Linked DNA regions of Homo sapiens. The protein of the gene in region 6 interacts with the protein of the main gene of each other region in a pairwise test. Each region holds a gene or a part of one and is shown on either strand. Other genes may lie near its edges. The genes, in order: NUP42, CLDN12, SEC16B, RAB11A, CFAP43, SEC13 and ADGRF5.

Evidence for each region.
Region 1: the proteins of SEC13 (region 6) and NUP42 interact in a two-hybrid assay, tested with the Homo sapiens proteins (one study listed by IntAct).
Region 2: the proteins of SEC13 (region 6) and CLDN12 interact in a two-hybrid assay, tested with the Homo sapiens proteins (one large-scale study listed by BioGRID and IntAct).
Region 3: the proteins of SEC13 (region 6) and SEC16B interact in binary tests that used the Homo sapiens proteins (3 or more experiments, as listed by UniProt).
Region 4: the proteins of SEC13 (region 6) and RAB11A interact in a two-hybrid assay, tested with the Homo sapiens proteins (one study listed by BioGRID).
Region 5: the proteins of SEC13 (region 6) and CFAP43 interact in a two-hybrid assay, tested with the Homo sapiens proteins (one large-scale study listed by BioGRID).
Region 7: the proteins of SEC13 (region 6) and ADGRF5 interact in binary tests that used the Homo sapiens proteins (3 or more experiments, as listed by UniProt).

Annotation. Positions count from the first base shown.
Region 1 is NC_000007.14:23,185,048-23,188,547, forward strand, and holds part of NUP42 (nucleoporin NUP42), read left to right. Parts: intron 1-22; coding exon 23-251; exon of another isoform or gene 252-255; intron 256-2,004; coding exon 2,005-2,099; intron 2,100-3,500.
Region 2 is NC_000007.14:90,402,055-90,406,260, forward strand, and holds the start of CLDN12 (claudin-12), read left to right. Parts: upstream 1-1,406; 5' UTR 1,407-1,495; intron 1,496-3,464; 5' UTR 3,465-3,554; exon of another isoform or gene 3,555-3,558; intron 3,559-4,206.
Region 3 is NC_000001.11:177,935,559-177,939,058, forward strand, and holds part of SEC16B (protein transport protein Sec16B), read right to left. Parts: intron 1,956-3,500; coding exon 1,656-1,955; intron 808-1,655; coding exon 740-807; intron 1-739. Other genes in the region: CRYZL2P-SEC16B (protein transport protein Sec16B), read right to left, coding at 740-807, 1,656-1,955. UniProt on the Homo sapiens protein: Plays a role in the organization of the endoplasmic reticulum exit sites (ERES), also known as transitional endoplasmic reticulum (tER). Required for secretory cargo traffic from the endoplasmic reticulum to the Golgi apparatus.
Region 4 is NC_000015.10:65,886,491-65,889,489, forward strand, and holds part of RAB11A (ras-related protein Rab-11A), read left to right. Parts: intron 1-1,210; coding exon 1,211-1,350; 3' UTR 1,351-2,999. UniProt on the Homo sapiens protein: The small GTPases Rab are key regulators of intracellular membrane trafficking, from the formation of transport vesicles to their fusion with membranes.
Region 5 is NC_000010.11:104,229,565-104,233,732, forward strand, and holds the start of CFAP43 (cilia- and flagella-associated protein 43), read right to left. Parts: upstream 2,801-4,168; 5' UTR 2,683-2,800; coding exon 2,618-2,682; intron 1,280-2,617; coding exon 1,026-1,279; intron 1-1,025.
Region 6 is NC_000003.12:10,304,113-10,307,612, reverse strand, and holds part of SEC13 (protein SEC13 homolog), read left to right. Parts: intron 1-1,920; coding exon 1,921-2,054; intron 2,055-2,456; coding exon 2,457-2,580; intron 2,581-3,440; coding exon 3,441-3,500. UniProt on the Homo sapiens protein: Functions as a component of the nuclear pore complex (NPC) and the COPII coat. At the endoplasmic reticulum, SEC13 is involved in the biogenesis of COPII-coated vesicles.
Region 7 is NC_000006.12:46,855,939-46,859,438, reverse strand, and holds part of ADGRF5 (adhesion G protein-coupled receptor F5 precursor), read left to right. Parts: coding exon 1-1,310; intron 1,311-2,530; coding exon 2,531-2,572; intron 2,573-2,661; coding exon 2,662-2,721; intron 2,722-3,380; coding exon 3,381-3,465; intron 3,466-3,500. UniProt on the Homo sapiens protein: Adhesion G protein-coupled receptor. In alveolar type II (ATII or AT2) cells, required for normal lung surfactant homeostasis.

The DNA.
Region 1 (3,500 bases), on a different chromosome or scaffold from region 6:
TTTGTTTTATTGTTTATTTTAGGTAATAATAGACGTGGATGGAATACAACTAGCCAGAGATATTCCAATGTCATCCAGCCATCCAGTTTCTCCAAATCCACACCATGGGGGGGCAGCAGAGATCAAGAAAAGCCATATTTCAGTTCTTTTGATTCTGGAGCTTCAACTAACAGGAAGGAAGGCTTTGGATTGTCTGAGAACCCATTTGCTTCACTTAGTCCTGATGAGCAGAAAGATGAAAAGAAACTTCTGTAAGTGAAAGTTTTCAGGAAAATTACTATCCATTTGCTTATGTTTTTTCACCTACAATCTTTGTTGTTTCTCTTTTTTTGTAACATCTTTTCACAATACAATATTTTCTTTAAAAAAAGAAATAATGCATTATTTTTAAATCAGAGTAGCAAAAAGAAGAAAAATCACCCACAATTCTATCACTCATAGATAGCCACTCTTTTGCTGTGTATTACCCTAGATTTTATTTCACTTAAAAATATATCATCTTTCTATAATAGTAGAGTGCCTTCCTAGGGGTAATTACGCTTTTTCCACTTTGTGTTGATAACACTATATTGTGAATATCTTTCTAAGATTAGTCCTGCTTAAGTTCATTCTAACTTACAAGTCCTTTACAAAGTATGATGTAATTTAGAACAACTTGTGAACTTGGAGGTCATTTTACCATCTCATTTATTTATTTATTTATTTATTTTGAGACGGAGTCTTGCTCTGTTGCCCAGGCTAGAGTGCAGTGGTACAATCTCGGCTCGCTGCAGCCTCCGCCTTCTGGGCTCAAGCCATTCTTCTGCCTCAGCCTCCCAAGTAGCTGGGATTACAGGCTCCTGCCACCAAGCCAGCTAATTTTTTGTGTTTTTAGTAGAGATAGGGTTTTACCATGTTGGCCAGGCTGGTCTTGAACTCTTGACCTCAAGTGATCTGCCTGCCTCAGCCTCCCAAAGTGCTGGGATTATAGGCATAAGCCACCATACCCAGCCACATATCTTATTTCTTTCTAAAACTTTTACTTGGATTATCCTATTCAAACTGATCTCATTTGATTTCCTACATTTATTATGGAGTAGATACATGACATTTCTTGAGAATATTTATGGTAAAATTTATGGCTGGTGTCAAAACAATGCTTGGCTATCTGTAATGTTCTCTCAACTCATGGTGACTAGGATGGAATTTAAATGTAATTGGTTAGTCTTTTACTTATCCTAATTAAATCAGAACCAGTTGTAGACATGTTGAGTCATATACCATATACAACCGATTTTTTTTTAAGTAAATGAGCAAACAAAACCTTCCTTTCTGCATTTGTTGCAATTCTAAATTTAATACAGTTTTCTCTGTGATAATTCTCCTTTTATTGACATAGTCTAAGTAGGGAGAAACTTTAATTTAGAGCCGAATCTACCCACGGCATTACCACAGATTAGTTGTATGGATGTGGGTCTGTTTCCCCTGTTGCAAAATGTGAGAATTAGATAAAATGATCTCTGAAGTCCTATAACCCACTTTTAAAATATTATGATTCTGTATCACGTAAGTGGTACTTTGTTCTTCCCAGTTAAATGATTATTGATGTTTGTGATAATTAACAAAGATTAAAGTTAGTATTTTAGATTTTAATTCCTAAAAAAAGTATGGTATCTATGATAGTATTTATGTAATTACTATCATAACCAATGTTACATATCATACCAATGATACCATATGATATGGTTACATATCATAACCAATGTTATGTATTAACATTGGTTAATGGGTCAGTGTATTGGAAAGCCAAACTCATTAACTTCTCTGACATTATAATACTATTTGTAACCATGAAATATAGTTCACACTTCTATAAACTTGTGCTTTAAAGAACACTCTTCAGAAAATATAATGGAAAAGTATTTACTAGAATTTAAATTTTCAGTTGTGGAAAACCATTAACAATAAATTTTACCAAGCAGCTAAGAAGATCCTTTACTCTTTTTTTTTTTTTCTTTTTTGCAGGGAAGGAATTGTAAAAGATATGGAGGTTTGGGAATCATCAGGGCAGTGGATGTTTTCTGTTTATTCACCAGTGAAAAAGAAACCTAATATTTCAGGTAACTGAAAAATTGTGCATTTTTAAAGTATGTTCTAAAACTATTATTTTCTAAAACCAAAAGAATGCCAAATAAAGAAATCAACTACCAACTTAGCTACAACTAGGAGAGTTTGGGCATTGTTTAAAGTATTCGAGTATTCTAGCCAAACTTCATAATTTAGAGATTAAGGTTGGAGAATATAGTCTTTTAAGACATATAGTTCTTGGGAGAAAACATTTAAATAAAGCCCAGGAAGAGACTCTACGTTCTTGATTCCCTGTATGTACAACTTTGGAACCTCTTAGCTTCCTGTTGTGAATAGAAGAGTCATCCTGCCTGTCATTAAGGCCTTGGCTGCCTGGTTCTGTTCTTTCTTCCCTGTCTTTCCTTCTAAGAATAGTTGTGTTGAGACCTGTTCTGGAGATAATGTTTAAATGTGAGGAGGCTTAGCTGGGCTACAGGGATAGCAACTTTTTTTTTTTTTTTTTTTTTTTTGAGACGGAGTTTCACTCTTGTCCTCCAGGCTGGAGTGCAGTGACGCGATCTCGGCTCACTGTGACCTCTGCCTCCCAGGTTCAAGTGATTCTCCTGCCTCAGCCTCCCGAGTAGCTGGGATTACAGTTGCCCGCTACCACACCTGGCTAATTTTTGTATTTTTCTAGAGACGGGGTTTTACCATGTTGGCCAGTCTAGTCTAGAACTCCTGACCTCAGGTGATCCGCCCGCCACAGGCTCCTAAAGTGCTGGGATTATAGGCGTGAGCCACCACACCTGGCCTGGAATAGCATTTGCTTTAGAATATTCTCTGTCTCTCTCTCTCTCTCTGGCCTGGAATAGCATTTGCTTTAGAATATTCTCTCTCTCTTTTTTTATTTTTTATTTTTATTTTTTTTTTTGTCCATAGTCCCTAAGCCCTTTCTGGGCTGAAACCTAGACCACCGGGCTTTCCCAAGCCCACTCTGGGTGTTCCTGGGCCTCCGTCCTTTTGAGGAAACAGTGGGTACCTTGCAAATGGGAGCTCTTGCAATCAATATCGCAGAACCTTGGGATCTTTCCTCTGTCTCAGTTCTAGTTGCTCATTTTCTGTGAGCATTTGCATTACAACGCTTCTTATTTATTCACTTGTCCATTTAACAAATATTTACTGAATTTCTTTTGTGCTAAGTGCTAGGAATATAGTGATGAGCAAGACAGACAAGATCCCTTCCTTATGAATCTTACATTCTTGAGGGAGGAAAACAATAAGTGATGCAAATAAACTAAGATAATTTCAGATAATGATATTTTCTATAAAGAAACCACAAAGTATTAAGCCCTTAATCAGCTTAAGTATTAGTACTTGAGTATTAATCCATTCCAAATTGAACCTAATGCCTGTTGCCCTAAAGCAGTGGTTCTTAAAATGTGGATTCCTGAATA
Region 2 (4,206 bases), on a different chromosome or scaffold from region 6:
TCCATCTGCTATTGCCAGAGCTGGCCTGGAGCCCAGAAATCTTTTCACCACCCAATGCTATCTTTCTTCCTCATTATTACATTTCCCAGTCTGGCTTTGGGATCGGATTGCTTCTGGCCTTAGATAACCTTATCCATCCTCTAAAGCAGTATCACACATAAGAAGGAGGTAGCAGTGGACTGATAGTAGCCTCTCTACCCTCCCTTTTTAAAAAGTCTCTGACAAATAGTCTCATTGTTACTAGAGCAACGCAAAATGGAAAATGCTAATAGCAAACATATAGTCCTTATTATGCGTCAGATACTGTTGTAACTGTCTCTGTAGTAATTCATTTAATCCTCATCACAATTTTCTGATGTAGATATACTGTTACAGATGAGACCTTGAGGCACAAAGGGGTTACCTTACTTGCCAAGGTTATACTTACTTGGGATGGGTGCCATCCTTTTGTATAAACTATGATACTTTTTCTTCTTTTTATTTTGAAAAATTTCTAAGATACAGAGAATTTGAAAGAATAGTACAAGAGACACCCACAAACATATTCTTCATGAATCCAACAATTATACACTTTGCCACACTTTATATCCATTTGTGTGTGTGTATGTGTGTGTGTATGTGTGATCATTTCGAAGTAGTAGGCATCACAACACTTCAGCATCCTTTATTTTTTAAAAAATCAGATCATTGCTATTTAGGACTTTGGAATCTTTTAGTTTAATTCAGATATTCATTCACTAATGCAGGACTTCACATTGGAGAGAAGCCAACAGAGAAAGGGACAGGACAGTAGAAATTGTGTGGGAGAGTAAAATTAGTTCAAATATCTAATAGCTAGCTATACTGTACTTTAGCTATATTAGGTCCCTCAGTTTTCAAGACAACAGTATGATGTGGGTGATCTTATCCCCATTTTTCCAGATAACCTCCAGATGTAGAGATAACTTTCCCAGGGCCACCCAATCAATACACAGCAAAGCCCCATACAAATCTGGGCTGTTTGGTTCTAGACTTTGAGCTCTTTTTCTACTTTTTGCCTAGATAAACACTTTGAGGGGAAAAAAAATCCAGATTTAAGAATTTTTGCTAACCTTCCTACGGGCAAGTCACCTTCAAGTCACCTGGGTACTTAGGTATCCAACTCAAAACTACTTTTAGTTTTGTTTCGTTTTGCCTTTTTTTTTTCTTTAACCGATAACCCAATTCTAGACGGAACATAAGGTGCAAGAGAAATCCGGGGAGGTGGAGGCAGAGAAAGGGAAGGGCAGGAGGTGGTCGCAGGATGTTGCCTGCGGCTGGCGGCCCAGTGGATTCTGGGAATTGTAGTCCCAGCCATCCAGGGCATTGCCGTTCAGGGCCACGGGAAAACCTGACTGCGCTCCCAGAAGCCTCCGGTGTACCTCGCTGGGAACGCACTTCCTGGGACGCTGAGAGGGAGACGCTCCAAGAGGCTCCTCAGTGTGGGCGAGTAAAATGCCCTGCGTGTGAGAAGCAGGTAGGTGTGGTCAAGATGTTCCGATTTCTGGGTCTTTTGCATAAGTAACTGAGGATTTTATGTAAAATGGCTAAATCCAGGAGAATCAGGAGCGTTGGAAAACGCTGACCACATCTGTGGATGTGAAAATTGAGTAGGTATTTGGTAAGGCTTTAAAAAATTATTTTGTACACAGGAGTATGGAAATGTCGAGGTGTGTTGCCGGAGCCGCCAAGGACTGGGAGCTTTGCTGGCGCGGGTTTGTGGGGGAGCCCAAGCTGCTATTTTTGAATAACCAGCTGATGCTGGTTGCGTAATGATGACCTGCTTGCGGTTCAAACCCACTCAGTGTTGCAGGGATGGGCTAGCTCTGAGAGCGTTAACAGTCACTGTTGCGGTCTCTCTCCATTGGCTCTAACTAGTAGGGCGTTTTCTTCCTTCTGCCAGGTCTGGGTCTACCACACACAGGGCTCTTCGAAAAGAGGGAGGAGGAGAGGAGGCGGAGGGGGGAGGAGGGGGGCGGAGGGGGATGCGGATTGCTCTGGAAGCTTGGTTTGCTTTCCTGTAAGTTCTGTGCACCCGGCCTTGTAAGGGGCCCATAGCCACGTTAGGGAAAGGTCAGACTTGGTGACCTCACTTAAAATGATTGCTCAAGGATTCTATTGTGCGTTATTAATTGTAAAACGATTTCCTCTGACTTTGGAGTGTGCAATTATGATTGATACCAACCCAAGAAACACATTTGGGGCGGGGGAGGGGTTGGGGGGGACTTGACTGAAATCTCCGAGCAGCCAGTTGCAGAGAGCATTCTACATAATGATCGTAATAGGGCTAGTGATGAACGCCTCAATCCAGGAAACTCTCAGGCGCACATAATAATGAGTTTCCATTCTCATCCTACCTGTTTGAGATAAATGGTATTTGAAGAGGAAGTGGCTAATGTTTAAAGTAGATATATAGAAGCATCTTTAAGTATCAGGTTGAGCCATTGGTGGAACTATTTTTTTTTTAAGCATTCTGGTTGCAAATTTCAGGATGCAGAATTCAGATCAACTTTGTCTGGTCTTGTTGTCAGTGTCCTTTTTTAAAAATGTAAAAGAAAATTTCTTTTACTTCCAAGACAACTGCACAGTCTTTCACCACCTTCCTTATCCTTTCACCGTAGTCATGAAAATGATCTAAAACATTCATTAAATATCAATCATATATTCCCAAGACAGCAAAGTGTTTTTCATCCTCATTTCTCCTATATTCTCAAGTCACAAGATGAGTTAATTTTTTTCTTCTATTTCTACGTATTTTTCTATATTCTATATATTTCTCATATATAATGCATGAATTAAGGAATAAACAGCCTTTTTATTTTTTTTTTTTTATTATTTGAGACAGATCATTGCTATGTCATCCAGGCTGGAGTGCAGTGGCATGATCATGACTCACTGTGTCCTCAAACTCCTGGGCTCAAGTGATCCTTCCATGTCAGCCTCCCAAGAAACTGGGACAACACGTGTGCACCATCACACCTGGCTAATTATTATTATTATTATTTTTTGAGCCAGAATCTCTCTCTGTCACCAACACTGGAGTGCAGTGGTGCAATCTCAGCTCACGGTAACCTCCACCTCCCAGGTTCAAGCGGTTCTTGTGCCTTAACCTCCCACATGGCTGGGACTATAGGCATGAGCCACCATGCCCAGCTAATTTTTGTATTTTTAGGAGAGATGGGGTTTTGCCATGTTGGCCAGGCTGGTCTTGAACTCGGGCTCAAGTGATCATCCCGCCTCAGCTTCCCAAAGTGTTGGGATTACAGGTGTAAGCCACTGTGCCCCTGCTAAACTGCCTTTTTAAAAAACTTACTGTCTGCCCTTTTTAGTATAACATTTCATTGGTTTTAGGTGATTACTAATCATTTCTTCTAATCCATGGGAATTCAAGCAGGGTTTTTAGAGAAGTACTATGTTAATTTGGAGTATTTTTCCTATTTCTTTAGGCTCAGATTATTGCTACTCTGTATTCAGATCTTCATGTGTCTCTTCTAAGCTGAATAAAGCTGTTTTGGAACTGTCAGGTACCTCAAAGCGTAAGTACGTCCTTTAATTATATCTTATTTCCCTCCCTCCTGCTACCACATCTGCCAACAATGACTCTTTTTTTTTCTCTTGTTCAACAAAATAGAGGTATAGGACAGACCTCTCTTGTGAGTACAATGACTGATGACTTACAGTTTCTAAGAAAACCCAAATTATAGGTAGAAGGAACTCTCAATGTTACCATCAAGAATTAAGTTAGGGCTGGGCATGGTGGCTCAGCCCTGTAACCCTAGCGCTTTGAGAGGCTGAGGTGGAAGGATCCCTTGAGCCCAGGAGTTTGAGACCATCCTGGGCAACATAGCGAGATCCTGACTGTATGAGAAAATTTTAAAAAATTAGCCAGTTGTGGTGGTACATGCCTATAGTCCCAGCTACTCTGGAAGCTGAGGTGGGAGGATTGCTTGAGCCTCGGAGGTCGAGGCTGCAGTGAGCCATGATTGCACCACTGTGCTCCAGCCTGGGTGAGAAAGCGAGACCCTGTCTCAAAAAAATAGAAGCTAGCTGCTATTAGACATATGTACTCTCGTAACTCTTGTAACTATAACTCAGAATTGTGCCTGGAAAAAATAGTACAGGGTCTATTGGATACATGACTTCCTAAAGCTCTTAGCCACTGTTCCTGCTCCAGCCTTCTTTAAATTC
Region 3 (3,500 bases), on a different chromosome or scaffold from region 6:
GAAAAGAAAAATATTCTGACTGTTGGATTGAATGATATTTGATTCTTTATATGATACTTCACTATTAGATTTTTCTATAACAATAATGTACCACTTCAGTCAGGAAAAAAAAAAAAACGGAAAAACATTAAAGTTTGTTAAGACCTGTACCCCTGTTTTTCTACTTTAAAAAGTTATAGGATGTAACCCTCCAACCAGGAGAAGCTGAAGAACGCCTCAGGTTTGGGACCAACACTGCCCATTGCTGAGGGCAGGGGTGTGTCCAATCAGAGCTAGATGGAATGATTCACCAGACATGAGGACCTTACAGCCTAACTGAGGAGAAAAGACAGGCAGGCACTGTCACAGCTACCACAGATCTTTCTTTGAAATAAAGCCAGGTAAAAATTAAAACAAGGAAATATCAACAGTCTTCCATGGCAGGACAGGGTAGGGCAAGCGTTTTGTGCAGCACTGAGAAGATGTCAGAGGTAACAGAGATCTGAGAGGCCAAAACGAATCAGCTCAGTTGCTCCCTCTCTCCCCATGGACACAGGTTTGTGGGGCTGAGCGTAAACAAGAACACAGCCTCCCGCCCAGCTCCCAGGAGTTGGAATAGGAAAAGGCAAGGCGAGATGTGGAAGAGAAAGCTGCTGCAACACTGAGGAGGAGCTTGCATGTGGCTGGGAAACCAAGGCAACTGGTAAAAACCAGAAGCATTTGAGTGGGCAGTGGCATCTTTTATGCTGTGCGCTCTCACCTGTGGTTTGGAAATGACCTCTTGGCCATCAGGAGGCTGGGAAGTTTCTTGAGACACTGTGTTCTCTCCTGCATCACAAACAGAAATGGAAATAGCAATTGGAAGTTGTGCTTTTCCCATCTATCCTGAAGAAGGGTAACTGGGACACAATCAGCTTTCTTAACTGCAGCAGAAGCTCGGAGCCCATAAGCCCAAGCCAATCACAGCAAATACAAAGAATGCTCACGTAGCTCATCTCAATCCCAGCCACCCCAGGACATGCTGTTCAACTCATCCTCTACTTCCAAAGCCACTCTTCAGGAATCTTGGAAATCAGAGCAACATCAAGCTAGGTCACAGGGATCCTCCACCACTCCTCTCCATCTGAGCCTCCATCTTGGACAGGACCTAATCCTGGAAGGTCTAAGAGCTAATCATTCTAGATGGCTTCCACCATCTCCCTGGCATCACTCAGCATTGCTTACCCATACTCAGCCCTTGTTGTCGAAGGTCTGATGGGCCTGAAGAAACTCGGGACCAAGACAGAAACATGGGTTTCTGCTGGAGAGCCTGATAGTAAGCTCTTGAGTGCAGGATGATTGGAGAAAGAGAACTTGGCCTATATTTTTCCACCCTGTAATCTCTCTCCTAGAAACTATGTAATCATTTGGATGGCAGGAGTGGCTCCATTTGCCCTGCTGTACCCAGTGGAGAGATGGACTGGGCTGGAAGATAGCAATCTCCTTCAGATGTATGCAAAGCACCAATACAGTGGCTGAAAACTAGCAGGCCCTCCGTAACGGGCACACATCCACGCATCTGTGTCTTTCCCAGCTCCAACCCTACCTCCTCTGACTGGTCCCACCACCTCCCTTTCCTGCTTCCTCCCCACCCAGACCCTACATTCAATGTGGCCACCCTAGCGGCCAGGTCTTACCAGGGCCCAGGTGTGTCTGCAGCATTTCCTCCCAGACTGTTCCTCCAGTGGCCTCTGTCACTGCCACGCTGCTGCCAGTCCCTGGTAGATGGGTCTCAGGAACTGAGTAAAAAGGCCTCGGTGTCCCTGTCTGCCCTGCACCCCCTCCTGCTGGGTAGGAGCCCGGCTGGAGGGGAAAGGGCTGCTGTGGGCTGGGCTGGAGCAGGCAGGTCTGCTCAGGTGTCAGCCACAGAGCTGAGCGGTACCCAGGGGCTTCAGAGTAGCCTTGACATCCAGAAAAGTCCTGGTAGAAAGTGTTTTCTAAGGACGTGGAACAAAGGTAAAGAAGTCAGACCTGAAATGCGGCATTTGCATACTGATCACACCAGAAACATTCCTGCTTATGTCTTCTTTGGAAAGCAGTCACAAGGACGAGCTGTCTAATGCGGCTTCCAGTAACATGATGACAAGTAAAACACAGTGATTGTAACATCCTCATTGCTGTTTACAGAATTTTGTTTGTTTGTTTTTTTCTTCACTAGTGTACCCTAAAAATAAAATCCTAAGCTCCTCCATTGACTTAACAGACTCCCTTTTGGCCAAGGGGACCCCAGAAAAACCTTAAAAACTGAGTTCCCAGCCATGACAGGATGGGAGGTGAGACACCCCTCATTATACCCCCTCTCTTTTGCAGTTTAGACACAACTGACCAGCATTAATGTTAAAACAGAGATCTTAAGACTAACAGAAAAGACTCTTGGTGGCCATAAGATACCAAACTATACACAGAACCTAAAGCCCTGCCAGGCAATGGTTAAGTCCCGCACCCCTACACCTTAAGAAAAAACTGCGTTCTCACGGCCACAAGGTTTTTTTTCTCTGGCAGCTCAACAAGCACTGGCCTCAAGATGAGCAATGTTAGAACAATTACAACTCATTCCATTCACAAATGCTGACTAAATGAGCCTCCGTTCCATCAGCCATGACCACAGCTTTGATTGGACAAGACTGATATCAGTAACTTTCTCCAGATAAGAAGACCACCAACCATGAACTGGGTCTGGCCAGTTTACAGAGGCTCCCCACTTCAGTGCTTCTGTGTCCCGAAAAGATCTTTTGACGCATAGGGCCTAACTGTAATACACTTAAAGGATAAGTCTCCACCCCAAGGTGAACATGGGTCATGTGTTACACGCACATTAGTTCATTATCCATGTGTGAGGACCTCCTTTGTGAACAGTCACAGCTCCTCCTATAACCTGTTAAATATGTATGTTTGATCAACCCATTCAACTTAAATTCTTGTCTTACCTCTCCTTCCCTCAAAGTGCCTGGCTATACTTCCCAGCCTGCGGGATGGCCACCTTGCAGGATGGAACCCTTTGTAAGAAATAAAGTCTCCTTTCCAAATGTACACATTGTATGACTTTTTTTTTAAGTTAACACTGCCTTGTATGATCCCTGAGCCTCTAGCCAGTGGGTTGGGAGGGCTGAAATTACCATCCTATCTAACTCCACACCTTTTTATTTTTTGATAAATTATTTCTTCTTTAAGGACTTCCTGATGGACATGGGTATTTAAAACTTAGAAAGCTTCCAGCTAAAAACCCAAATCAGACCACAGAAATCATGGCTCTGTTCTTAAGGAATCAGAGTACATTTGCCCTGGAAAAGACCTGACTGGTAACATAAACTAAGGTGTGGACCTATAACAAGATTGGTCACAGGACTGGCATGGGTGGCCAACCCGCCTGCTCCACTGGGCACCAAGGCATCAGGAGGCAGGGCTGTGGGGAAGCACAATCCACAGGCACCCAGCCGGGCTCTCCTCCACCCCCCACCTTTACAGATCCTGCTACACAGTGA
Region 4 (2,999 bases), on a different chromosome or scaffold from region 6:
AGGCTAATTGTGTTAATTTGACACATTTTTAGAATTATCTTGCTTTTTGAGAGTAGTGTTTTTGGAGGGACAACTGGGAGAGTAAACAAAAATAAGGTACATTCTCTGTTCTTAAGGACTTTATAATCTAGTCACAGGGAACAACTTTTAGGCAGTGCAGTATAAGACCAAACGTGTTACATACAGATACTTATTGTGGAGGAATTTAGTGACATTCATGCGGTTATTTATTTATCACAACACATGTTATATGTTGCAGTACAGCAGTAAGACAGACACAGTTTTGATCCTTACAGAGTTTAACACTTAGTAAAAGAGGCAGACACTAAATTATTTTTGATAAGTGTCATGAAATAAAAATAGAGTTTACATATAACATCTTAAGTTGCCTATTTTGTATCATTCTTTAATTACAATTTAAGTTTTGTTCAGGAGGTCACTGATAAACACATTATCTTTTTTTCCCTTCCAAGAATCGTTTGGGATTTTAGCATGTTTGTTAAGATGTACTCTGCCGAATGCGTCTGATAGTGCAAATTTATTTATTTTTTGTGTGGTACAATGTCATTGTGTGTAGGCAATTTTTGTTTGTTTGTTTGTTTTTTGGGGTAAAGGTAGACTGAAAATACTCTTATGGTTTACTTTGAATCTAAGTCCATAAACAATGTAATGCTATTGGCTTACCTCTTTTTTTTTTTTTTGAGACCGAGTCTTGCTCTGTTGTCTAGGCTGGAGTGCAGTGGCACGATCTCATCTCACGACAACCTCCGCCTCCCGGGTTCAAGTGATTCTCCTGCCTCAGCCTCCCGAGTAGCTGGGATTACAGGCACCCACCATCATGCTTGGCTAATTTTTGTATTTTTGTAGAGACAGGGTTTCACCATGTTGGTCAGGCTGGTCTTGAACTCCTGACCTCAGGTGATCTGCCTGGCCTGGTTTACCTCTTTAAACAAAGATTTATTTGACTGGTGAACCTTTCCCTCTGACATGGAAAAACCTTTGTTTCTTTTCTTACCCAAAGGGCAATTGTTAAAATAAAGGGTTGAATCTAATCAGTGGCTGTTTGAAAATAAAACTTTAAATTTATGTATTCTCTGTTCAGTTTCCTTAGGGACTTTGATGCAAATATATCTCCTACCTTTATGTATCTTTTATCCTAACTATGATAGGTTTATTCACACTAAGTATTGTGGTTTCTTTTTTCCTTCAGAGATTTACCGCATTGTTTCTCAGAAGCAAATGTCAGACAGACGCGAAAATGACATGTCTCCAAGCAACAATGTGGTTCCTATTCATGTTCCACCAACCACTGAAAACAAGCCAAAGGTGCAGTGCTGTCAGAACATCTAAGGCATTTCTCTTCTCCCCTAGAAGGCTGTGTATAGTCCATTTCCCAGGTCTGAGATTTAAATATATTTGTAATTCTTGTGTCACTTTTGTGTTTTATTACTTCATACTTATGAATTTTTCCATGTCCTAAGTCTTTTGATTTTAGCTTTATAAAATCATCCACTTGTCCCGAATGACTGCAGCTTTTTTTCATGCTATGGCTTCACTAGCCTTAGTTTAATAAACTGAATGTTTGGATTCCTCAGTTATTGTTTACTTTTCATCATGGAAGCCTGTCACTGTATGTAGGACATAATAGAACTTGATCACTTGAAGCTCAGACCTATTGGTCTTGATCAAATCAAACTAAGAAGACCTTAGAAATAAGCTACCATTTTGCCACAGAGCAGCTTATAGGTAATACACTCTTCTCTCAGTGCAGTGTACATTTCCACAAATCTAAGAATTGCCCTATAAACATAGCAGGATTTTGAGAGCTTGAAAATTTTCCATTATTCTGGACATGAATTTCTAAAATGCCTTAATAGGTTTATGTAGTTGAGTAAATTTTGTTTTTTAATTTTTGTAAGCATCAAAGTTGATTAGAGAGGGGGGCACTTTTTCTGGAGAATTCTCTTAGTAAACACAAAAGATTGTTACGGTTTCATTAGTAGTATGGTTGTGGGGCCATAAGTTAAACAGTGCTGCCTGGTAGGCTGGGAACTGAAGAGACTTGTGGTATTCCATCTCGGGTGCCTCTGTTGGCAATGATCAGGCAGCCCAAAAGATTTAAATGATCTATAATAATTTCCAAGCGGTAGATTATGTGGCATTTTATTGCTCAGGCAATAATTGGTTTAATGCTGGTAGTGTCAAATTTTGAAGTGTTAATTTTGTCTTAGAACCTTCCAGTAAGTGAAATACAACCTAGTTTTATCACCATATCCACCAGCAGGCATGGATAATTATTTTAACAATGCTAATATTTGAGTTTTGCAGTATATTATAGAATATAGTCCAGTTAAATCTTTGGTTTCAGTATGTCTGAAGAGTACAGTGAGAGGTTAATTTCTGCTCAAGTGGTACCACTTAAAGGCATGTATTCTTTTAGTATGTAAAATGAAATAGTACCTTGAGTTTAAATAGAATGCATTTAGGCATTGTAGAGATCTGAAATAGTTTTCTTCCACTACATTGTTGAAATCAATGAAGCAATTAGTTTCTCATTCAGAAATGTGCACACTAATATTTAGTTTTGCTTTCTCGTGGATAATATTAAGCACTTACTCTGCAGTTTCCTGGAAGTTGTGTCAACTGCAGTGATACTATTCAGGATGGTGGGAAATCCCCAAAAATATGTATGTGTGGGCTTGCTTAGATTACTATATTTCATAGTTAATCTTTTGTCTCTTGCGGTGCTCATGATGTGTGGGGCACACGGAAGGCATTGCTGTAGTCAGTCATTTTGGTTTTCTTCTATAGCCATTTTATTATTTTAGTGTATTAGTTATGAAGATAATATTATCTATTTGTAAATTGCTACTTTGTATTTTATGCATGCTCTGTAATTTGATTTTTTTTTAGTTATTGATTTGGATTATATTCACATTCTAATAAACAGTTATAGGGGGATTATTTCTTATGCTGTCAGATTACATTTTTCCTTTGAG
Region 5 (4,168 bases), on a different chromosome or scaffold from region 6:
AAGGCAGGAGAATCACTTGAACCCAGGAGGTGGAGGCTGCAGTGAGCCAAGATCATGCCACTGCACTCCAGCCTGGGTGATAGAGCCAGACTCTGTTAAAATAAAATAAATAAAATAAACACTAATAATTCAAATGGTAGGCAACATTGAGCACTTGGCATACATACACATACAGCATATTATATATTTTCATCTATCATCATCACCGCAGCCTTCACATTAGACACCATCTTTATCCCTATTTCATGAATGAGGAAATTGAGGCTCAGAGACTTGACTTTAGAAGCTATACAAACATCAATTCACCTGGATTTTCAACAAATATTAGGAAAGAAAAAAAAGTCATTGCTCTGAAAAAGGCAATAGTCTTCTAGCCCAGTGCTTCTCAAAGTTTAATGTGCATATGAATCACCTGGGAATTTTGTTAAAATGCAGATTCTGATTGAGTAGCTCTGATGTGGGAGCCAAGTTTCTGCATTTATAACAAGCTTCCCAGGTAGCACCAATGTTGCTGGTAAACAGACCACACTTTGAACAGCAAGGCTCTAGCTAACATAATTTAAATCCTCAGTGATCAGCTTGATTCCTTCTTTAAAAATGTATATTAAAAAAAAAAATGGGGCCAGGCGTGGTGGCTCATGCCTGTAATCTCAGCACTTTGGGAGGGTGAGGCAGGCGGATCACTAGGTCAGGAGTTGGAGAACAGCCTGACCAACATGGTGAAACCCCATCTCTACTAAAAATACAAAAATTAGCTGGGCGTGGTGGTGCGCACCTGTAATCCCAGCTACTCAGGAGGCTGAGGCAGGAGAATCACTTGAACCTGGGAGGCAGAGATTGCAGTGAGCCAAGATCGCACCACTGCACTCCAGCCTAGGCAACAGGGCAAAACTCCATCTCAAAACAAACACAAAAAACAAACAAAAAAAACCTTTCAAAAAATAAATCTTCACTTATAATAGATTTAGTCAACTCTTTAAACAAAATCCTTCAATTATGGGCAGAGGAAGGGTTCTCTAGAATACCTTTCAATTTGGTCCTTCTGGTCAATCCTGGAAAGCTGTATACGTAGATGAGAGGTTTTAGCTTCCGGTCAGAAAAAGCCACAACTTCACAGGGGATGTTAGTTGCCATGACGCCCACAATTCCATTACTACACTGCAGTACAGTCTTTTTCTTGGTTTCAATATTAATAAATATTACATAATTCCCACAAGGGTAGCAAATGGTGTTGTCGTTGACAAAATGAACATTCTGCTTAGGGAATCCTTGCACCCATCTTTGGGAAAAGATATGTCAACATCAATATAATACATTTCAAATACTTTTTTTTTTTTAACAAAGCAAAGGGTCATCAAAATCTTTGAAACATTTCTATTTTCATGTCCTTTCTGCCCCCAATTTCTAAGATAAAAGAACACACATGCTGGCTGTGAGATCCATTTGAGTCAATGAATTATAGAAATTTAAATGTAGACCTAAAGTTCCGTAGGTCTCCCAGGCCTTCTTCAGATAACTTTTTCAGCAAAGGAAACTCTCTGACCAAACCTGAGAAAGTCTCAGAAGGACTTCTGGGGTCTTCTATACTTGGAAGACAAAAAGTGAAAATAACAGAGAAAAGAGCTTGATCTCAACACAGTGGCATCCTGGGCCATTCTTTTATAATTAGTTTGATTTTTTTAAATAAACTTTAAAAAACAACTTTGCATAGGACAGCCTGCTTTGTGGTTGTTAGCAGAGTAGGAAAATTGCTTATTTACACAGATGAAGAGTATGTGGCCATATTTTAGATTTAAAAATACAGATAAACGTAGAAAATAAAAGGAATGAAGTCGACGTGAATGAAAGGCTAGCACACAAAAAGAACATACTCTCAAGTAAGGAGTGCGTGCTAGGTGTATGCTAGAAAGGAGAGGAGATGAAGGAGATTCTATTTTTATTTAAATATTAAAGGTATGCTTGAAGATGGTGGAAAAGGCAAGTGAAGGACACTGGTTTGGTGAGAAACCTCGAGACATTAGAGTGTCCAGGACTAGCAGGGGATGCTGTATAGAGTGGAGGTGGGGGCTGGGAGGAACACTCTAGAATGTAGGGGAAAAAATGCCACCTATATCTGCGCAGTGCTTGATGCTTTTCAAAGGCTACTATAAATGCAAATAAATCCAAAGCTAGTGGATAGGAGTTAGAAGGAAAGGATTCAGGGACCTAACTTTGGGGAAAATCACCAAAGGTAGCAAGGACGGGATCCGGGCTGTCGCCAGGTGGAGGGGGAGGGGGATGTGATCAGAAGACCCGGATCACTAGCGGGAATCCTGAGCTAGAAGGAAGAGATGAAGGGTGCAGGGGACGTTGCTGGGTAAGAGACGGAGGGTCAGGGTCGCAGAATAAGGAGTGGGAAAGACAACTGGGGACGGGGTCAAGGAACAAGGGGATGGGGAGCGGACAGGGGAGGTCACACGGGGAGGGAGGCTGAGGGAAGGCACTGGGGGCAGAGGGGAAGAGGTCGAAGCTGCGGGGAAAGCCGCCCTAAGGAACCGGAGGGAGAGGAGGGAGGAGGGGACTTGGGGCAGGAGGTTCCGCGAGACCCAGATCGGTCGCGGGGCCGTGAACACCGCACCTCACGGACAAGGACGCGCCGCCGGCGGAGTGGGGGCCTTCGTCGCGCTCCCGGCCTTGCGCCATGGGCAGTGTTTTCCTCAGGCGGGAGCAGGCAGCGCACGCAGCACCCCAGGGCGGGTCGGTTACCTTTCCGCCGCCGCGGGGCTGCGGGCCGCGACGCCGCTGCTGTGTACACCCGTATCCCGGAGACCGTAAGCCCCGCGCCCATTGGCTCTGCGCTTTGGCCCGCTCCCTTCTGAGCCGAGCAGATTGGTGGAAGGTCTGCCGCTCTCGGCCAATGGGTGAGCGGCAAGCCAAGCGAGGGGCGGGCCCCTTGCTGTTCAAAGTGTGGTCTGTTTACCAGCAACATTGGTGCTACCTGGGAAGCTTGTTATAAATGCAGAAACTTGGCTCCCACACCAGATCTACTCAATCAGAATCTGCATTTTAACAAATTTCCCCAGGTCCGGGCCAATAATTGCAAGTAAGACTCATGCCTACAATCTCCGCGCTTTCGAAGGTCAGAGCGGGAGGATCGCTTGAGGCTAGGAGTTGAAGACCAGCCTGGAAGACATAGCGAAACCTGCCGCGCCCGTGCCGCATCTCTACAAAAAAATTTAAAAAGCAGCCGGGCATGGTGGTGCACGCCTGTAGTCCCAGCTACTTGGGAGACTGAAGTGGGAGGATCGCTTGAGCCCAGGAGTTCAAGGCTGCGGTGAGCTGGGATGACGCCACAGCACTCCAGCCTGGGCGACAGAGCGAGACCTGTCTCTAAATAAATAATTATTTTTAAAAATCAATAAATTTCTAAACAGACTTTCATTTAGAGTGCTGACTGTGCCAAACATTGTTGCAACGTCTTCACATCTCCCATCAGCCCCATTTTACAGATAAGTAACGTGAGGAAAAGAGAAGCACATAATTTGTCCATGGCTACAAAGTTGAGTGGGACTTTATTTATTTATATTATTTATTTATTTATTTTTGAGATAGGGTCTCACTCCGTTGCCCAGGCTGGAGGGCAGTGGCTTGATCTTGGCTCACTGCAACCTCCATCTCCTGGGTTCAAGCGATTCTCCTGCCTCAGCCTCCCAAGTAGCTGAGATTACAGGCACGTGCTACCATGCCCAGCTAATTTTTTGTATTTTTAGTAGAGACGGGTTTTCACCATGATGACCAGGCTGGTTTCAAATTCTTGACCTCAAGTGATTCGCCCGCCTTGGCCTCCCAGAGTGCTGCGATTACAGGCGTGAGCCACCTTGCCCAGCCCTGAGTGGGACTTAAACGCAGGTCTAGCTAATTTAGAGCTCCAAGCCCTTAAGTACCATATAACACTTTGAAATGTACCCTCTTGCTTCCTCAGGGAAGCAGACAGCTCTGGAAGTAACCTGATTGAATGGTCGGCAGCTTGTCATTCCTTCTTCTCTCCCATACCTTCCCTTAGACTCCCTCCCTTACCCTTCTTCCTTTCCCTTCAGTCGTCTTCCCTTCTCTACCCTTCCCTTCCTTTCTTTAGGTCTTTCCTTCCTGTCTTGCTTTCTTCTCTCCATTTCTTTCACAAATATTTACA
Region 6 (3,500 bases):
GTTTTATGAAGGGGAGTTCACCTGCACAGGCTCTCTCTCCCTTTTTGCTGCCATCCATGTGAGATGTCACTTGCTCCTCCCTTGCCTTCTGCCATGATTGTGAGGCCTCCCCAGCTACATGGAGCTGTAAGTCCATTAAACCTCTCTTTTTTTTGTAAACTGCCCAGTCTCAGGTATGTCTTTATCAGCAGCGTGAAAATGGACTAACACACCCCGACGCTACTAAAAATACAAAAATTAGCCAGGCGTGGTGGCACACACCTGCAGTCCCAGCTACACGGGAGGCTGAGGCAGGAGAATCACTTGAACCTGGGAGGTGGAGGTTGCAGTGAGTCAAAATCGCGCCTCTGCACTCCATCCTGGGCAACAGAGCCAGACTCTGTCTCAAAAAAAAAAAAAAGGCAGTGGCTCACACCTATAATCCCAGTACTTTGGGAGTCTGAGGTGGGAGGATCACTTGAGCCTACGAAGTTTGAGGCTGCAGTGAACCATGATCTTACCAGCCTGCACTCTAGCCTGGGTGACAGTGAGACCCTGTCTCAATTTTTAAAAAAAAAAATTGTTAATAATAAATAAAGAGGAGAATCAGTCATCTTTGGAAAGTGATAGAACCAGTTCAGAAAGAATCAAGCGTTTATCCAGCCTTTCCTTTTTGACCTTGTATTAGTCTGTTTTCTCGCTGCTGGCAAAGACATACCCAAGACTGAGCAATTTACAAAGGAAAGAGGATGGAGAACTCACAGTTCCACGTAGCTGGGGAAACCTCACAGTCATGGCAGAAGGCAAGGAGGAACAAGTCACAGCTTACGTGGATGGCAGCAGGCAAAAGAGAGAGCTTGTGCAGAAAAACTCCCATTTTTAAAATCGTCAGATCTAGCGAGACTTATTCACTATCATGAGAACAGCATGGGAAAGACTTGCCCCTGTGATACAATTACCTCCTACCAGGTCCCTCCCACAACACGTGGGAATTCAAGATGAGATTTGAGTAGGGACACAGCCAAACCATATCAGACCTCTATCCCTGGGTAACTGAATAGTTAATGAGAAGAAGTGTCCCTATCTGGAGCATTCCATGGAATAAATGACAAAGAAAGGATGGAATTAGAGTATCACCATTTTACAAGCCCCAGTGAATTAAGAGAGGCCTGAGTTATTGACAGCTGTTAATATAAGAGACAATCTAACGTGCCTCCTGATGAGAGAACGCACCAGCTCTAGTCTTGCCAAAGGGATCACACCTGAGTCTGTCCAGTCTTGGCTCCAGCTGACAGTTTTCAGGAATTCAGAGGAACATATTGAACTGCATATGAAGCAGCAAAACCCAGACCGAGAGACTAGGCTCTCTTCAGCAGAAAAATTGTAAGGAAAAAAATCAGAGGAGGAATCTGCAAAGTAGGAGATGTAAAAAACATCCAAAAAAATGTTTAATGGACAAGACTAAACTATAGTATCTAGGGGTGCACATTTGGGTGATAAAATGGGGGGAAAATGGGTTAGAAGTTAGGGCAGTGGTTACTTATAGTGGAAGAGGGAGCTGTGATTAGGAAGGGCATAATGACAGGGCTTTTCAGGCAGGTGGCAGAATTCTTGTTTCTTGATCTATTACTTTATAATAAAAGATTTTTCTTAAAAAAAAGCTCCAATGTACCATTCTTTCATGTGTTTAGAAAATGTCCTGTTTCTTAAACTTGTGGGAGTTCTTAATTTCTACTTTTAGCGCACACTGCAGAAAAATGCACACACTGTTGGGATCCTTGAGGGAGAATTCTGAGCAGTGGACCCCATGATGAGTGCTTCATGTCAGCCTTCACACACACTCCAGTCCTGAGAAGCGGAGGGGAGAGGGACAGCAGGCTTGGGTCTGCAGAAGCAGTGTTCTCTTGCAAGGCAGAGTCACCATGTGTCCCATCTTTACAGATTGGCTGCAATGCCGTCAGCTGGGCCCCTGCTGTTGTACCTGGAAGCCTCATAGACCACCCATCGGGGCAGAAACCCAATTACATCAAGAGGTTTGCATCAGGTGGCTGTGACAACCTCATCAAGCTGTGGAAGTAAGTAGGGATGTGTGGCCTTCTCTTTGAGGGGACACTTCTACCCTTTACCCTACTCACCATGACTCAGCCACACTCACAAGAAACAAGGTCACCTTTCTTTCTCCCTCCTGCCAGTAAAATACTGTTTTCAATCTGTTGGAGGACATCCTTGAAAAACAACACAACACCTGTTCACCTAATTCCCAACTGTTGGAGCTGACTCTTTGGCTGTGGAAGCAGAGCATTTTCTGGAGGGTTTTTTTTACAGCTGGGGTGAAGGGAATAAAATGCCACAAACTCCATGAATGAAAGAAGAAAGATGGAATCGCTTCTCCACCCCAGGCAGAGCCTGTTGGGTTGGGGAGGAGTTGAGGTGTGGGAACGGCCCCCTGCTGATTCTCTTTCTGTCCCCACTGTTAGGGAGGAGGAGGACGGCCAGTGGAAGGAGGAGCAGAAGCTAGAAGCGCACAGTGACTGGGTTCGAGATGTGGCCTGGGCCCCCTCCATCGGCCTGCCCACCAGCACCATCGCCAGCTGCTCCCAGGTCAGCCCAGGGCCATGAGTATCCCTTGTCATTTAGTCTCGAGTCAGGCCCATCAGCTCTTAGTCTCCTTAGCAGAAAGTCCTCTGGGAAGGTAAAGGGAGAGCAACAGGCACCTTTGGCCCAGAGCACAGGGAGTCAGGTCATTGTGTGGGGAAGTCTTGGTCAGAAGCCACAAGTGGCCTGCCTCCACTGAGATGAGACAGCTACAACAGAACCGGCACCAAGAAGGAGGCGGATTCGGGATGAATTTTCCCTTCTGACCCATGTGAGACTAGGGCGCCGAGGTGCCCAGGTGCAGTTCCAAGTGTTCCCAAGCAACGATGGGGTTGGATGGGAATTATACGCTTAGCTACCAAGCCACCCTTCCCAGACAGCAAGGACGGCCAAGGGTGAGCCTTCAGTTATACACCACCACCCTAGAGGGAGCCAGCTAGGCCTTTCACATCATGGGAACCTGTTTGGTTTGGTTCTAAACTTGGGATTTTTGTGCTTTTTTACTTGTGCCTTCTCATTCTTGGAGCTTGGTTTTTGGAGAGCTCTGCCCATTCAGTTGAGAAGGTATAGACGGCCAGTGGAAGTGACTTGGCAGGCATGAGGAAAACCCCAGAGAAAATCTGAGTTAGCAATGCAGACAGAGTCCACCTCCGAAACCCGGATGAGAAAAGGAATCCGGGAGACTCTTAACCAGTGTGAAGAGACAGAAACAAAGCTGTGGACGCCCCAGAGGTCCTCGGCTCCCCTTTGAATCCCCCACCCTGTTCCTGCAGAGAGGTGCCGGGTGGCTCTAGACTGGGAGGACATCACATCACAAACGCAGGAGTCTTGACTCCACCTCCTGACTCTATCCTGTTTCTTCCTAGGATGGTCGTGTGTTCATTTGGACCTGTGATGATGCCTCAAGCAATACGTGGTCCCCTAAA
Region 7 (3,500 bases), on a different chromosome or scaffold from region 6:
GTTCACAGCTACTACATTCAGTGGAAAGATTTTCCCAAGCATTACAGTCGGGAGATAGCCCTCCTTTGTCCTTCTCCCAAACTAATGTGCAGATGAGCAGCATGGTAATCAAGTCCAGCCACCCAGAAACCTATCAACAGAGGTTTGTTTTCCCATACTTTGACCTCTGGGGCAATGTGGTCATTGACAAGAGCTATCTAGAAAACTTGCAGTCGGATTCGTCTATTGTCACCATGGCTTTCCCAACTCTCCAAGCCATCCTTGCCCAGGATATCCAGGAAAATAACTTTGCAGAGAGCTTAGTGATGACAACCACTGTCAGCCACAATACAACTATGCCATTCAGGATTTCAATGACTTTTAAGAACAATAGCCCTTCAGGCGGCGAAACGAAGTGTGTCTTCTGGAACTTCAGGCTTGCCAACAACACAGGGGGGTGGGACAGCAGTGGGTGCTATGTAGAAGAAGGTGATGGGGACAATGTCACCTGTATCTGTGACCACCTAACATCATTCTCCATCCTCATGTCCCCTGACTCCCCAGATCCTAGTTCTCTCCTGGGAATACTCCTGGATATTATTTCTTATGTTGGGGTGGGCTTTTCCATCTTGAGCTTGGCAGCCTGTCTAGTTGTGGAAGCTGTGGTGTGGAAATCGGTGACCAAGAACCGGACTTCTTATATGCGCCACACCTGCATAGTGAATATCGCTGCCTCCCTTCTGGTCGCCAACACCTGGTTCATTGTGGTCGCTGCCATCCAGGACAATCGCTACATACTCTGCAAGACAGCCTGTGTGGCTGCCACCTTCTTCATCCACTTCTTCTACCTCAGCGTCTTCTTCTGGATGCTGACACTGGGCCTCATGCTGTTCTATCGCCTGGTTTTCATTCTGCATGAAACAAGCAGGTCCACTCAGAAAGCCATTGCCTTCTGTCTTGGCTATGGCTGCCCACTTGCCATCTCGGTCATCACGCTGGGAGCCACCCAGCCCCGGGAAGTCTATACGAGGAAGAATGTCTGTTGGCTCAACTGGGAGGACACCAAGGCCCTGCTGGCTTTCGCCATCCCAGCACTGATCATTGTGGTGGTGAACATAACCATCACTATTGTGGTCATCACCAAGATCCTGAGGCCTTCCATTGGAGACAAGCCATGCAAGCAGGAGAAGAGCAGCCTGTTTCAGATCAGCAAGAGCATTGGGGTCCTCACACCACTCTTGGGCCTCACTTGGGGTTTTGGTCTCACCACTGTGTTCCCAGGGACCAACCTTGTGTTCCATATCATATTTGCCATCCTCAATGTCTTCCAGGTGAGTTTTACAGTGCGGAGCTTTCAGGAAGATTTTATTCCTGTAGGACAAATTAATGATAGAAACACAAACAAGAGTAGGAATGGGGAAGGATTTCAGCCCAGAGGAAGCCTCAGCTCTAAAGAGCAGTAATAATGAGAACTCAATCAGATGGAAAGGACACATTCTTCTGATCCTATGGCACCTCATGCTTTTTATCACCTACATTATAATTTAGTGTCATTTGCCAGTCTCTGCTAAATACACTGATTACACTAGTAAAAGGAAAATCCCCATTTGTCTAAGATTATCTTGATGTAGTCTATTATCTCCTAAATGAAAATCCTGTCTTTGTGAGGACAGGGATTGCCCCTTTCTTGTTCATCACTATACCTCTATGCCTGATAGAGACCTTGGTACAGAGTAGGTTCTCAATAATCATTTGAATGAAATAAATCCTATGTACCACATAGCAGCTTCTCTGGAAACATCAAAAATCAGAGAATGAATGTCCTGTGAATGCCAGACAATCTGCTTGATTATACTACAATGAAAAAACATCTTCTTCGCTCTCCTGCAGCACATAACTAACTACAGTGCAGGCCAGTTTGTTAGAAGAACTATAACAGAGGTATAGATAGCAAGCCTTTAAAGTACAAGGAAGGAAGTGATTAATTCTGTTTCACCCAATGGAGAGGTGGTAAGGATAGAAAAAAACTTGCCCAAGGATTGAGGCCACTGTAAACTTGTGAAGAGGCAGAGGCTGGAGGCACACTCGAGATACTGCTTTCAGGATGCTTGTGCCAAGAACATATGAACCTTGATTTCTGCTACTGGGCCTGTGTCTCCAAGCTATGTAGTTCATATGTAATGACCTTCATGATATGCCTCATTTGGAAGGAACTAGTTATCCCACCCCATAGCCCAGATTCTTATCACAGCTATGTAAAGAATATTGTAGACACAAGAGGTGTATTAATAGCATAACCAACAGGACCTCCAGTTTTCAACTAAAGGAAAATTGGAAAATAGAAAATATCTTCCTAACATCATAACATTTAGAGTCCCTTGGTGTGGACCAAATGCCTGTCTTTGAACAGTATCATGTACTGGACTCATTCCATAAACTCAGAAGGAAAAAGAAGTAGTACAAATTTAACACCAGGTTAACAGTACTTCCTCCTTTGCTGGACAATAGACTATAATTAAAATGCACTTCTTTTCAATCTTTTTTTTCTCAGGGATTATTCATTTTACTCTTTGGATGCCTCTGGGATCTGAAGGTAAGAGCAATGACAGTTTCATGTTTCTAGAAAAGTCTGAAGTGCTTGTGGCATGTTGAAGTTACGATAGCTTCTTTTTAACAATGCAGGTACAGGAAGCTTTGCTGAATAAGTTTTCATTGTCGAGATGGTCTTCACAGCACTCAAAGGTAAACTTTTTCTCTGCAGAGACTTTTCATTTTATAACATCATGTATTCCACTAGCATTCTGAAGTACAGAGTACTAAATTTTTTCTTTGGGATTTTGATCAATTAGGCTAAATATATTGCATCCTCAAACCTGTCTCCCTCAACAGCTGTATTTGGCATAGATCATTCCATTGTTTTTGCTTCTCAAGTCATTCTGTCTATTAAATAGAGCCATAGAGCTGTCATTGAGATGCTACTCCACATATTTAAATAGGTTTTAAAATAATATATGATATAAACTTAAGGTTGAAATCAAACGTTCAATGAGAAGCAATCTTCTGGGGGGATTCAAGGCATTAGAGAAAACAAGTTGAAGAATAATAATGGATAGAATTTTCTGTAGTTCATTTTGGAACACAACTATTGCCCTTGGATATATCTGACTGCCTTTCACATGTCAGAAAATGCTAGAAGCCTAACAAACAATAAAACTTGTATTTGACAGTTATTTTTCTAATACAGATGATAAGATTCCAGTATTTTAATGTGACCTCTGGGAGTGGGACTAGAGATTCCGGCAGTGACCACTAGAGGGTGGAAAATCAATCCTTCTAGAGATGGAAACAGCTTTGGTCCCACAAATTTGCTTTGTGATTGTCCCTTTTTTTCTCTCTTCTAGTCAACATCCCTGGGTTCATCCACACCTGTGTTTTCTATGAGTTCTCCAATATCAAGGAGATTTAACAATTTGTTTGGTAAAACAGGTGAGTAGTGGCCTCCAGTTTCTCCCTGCTTGTCC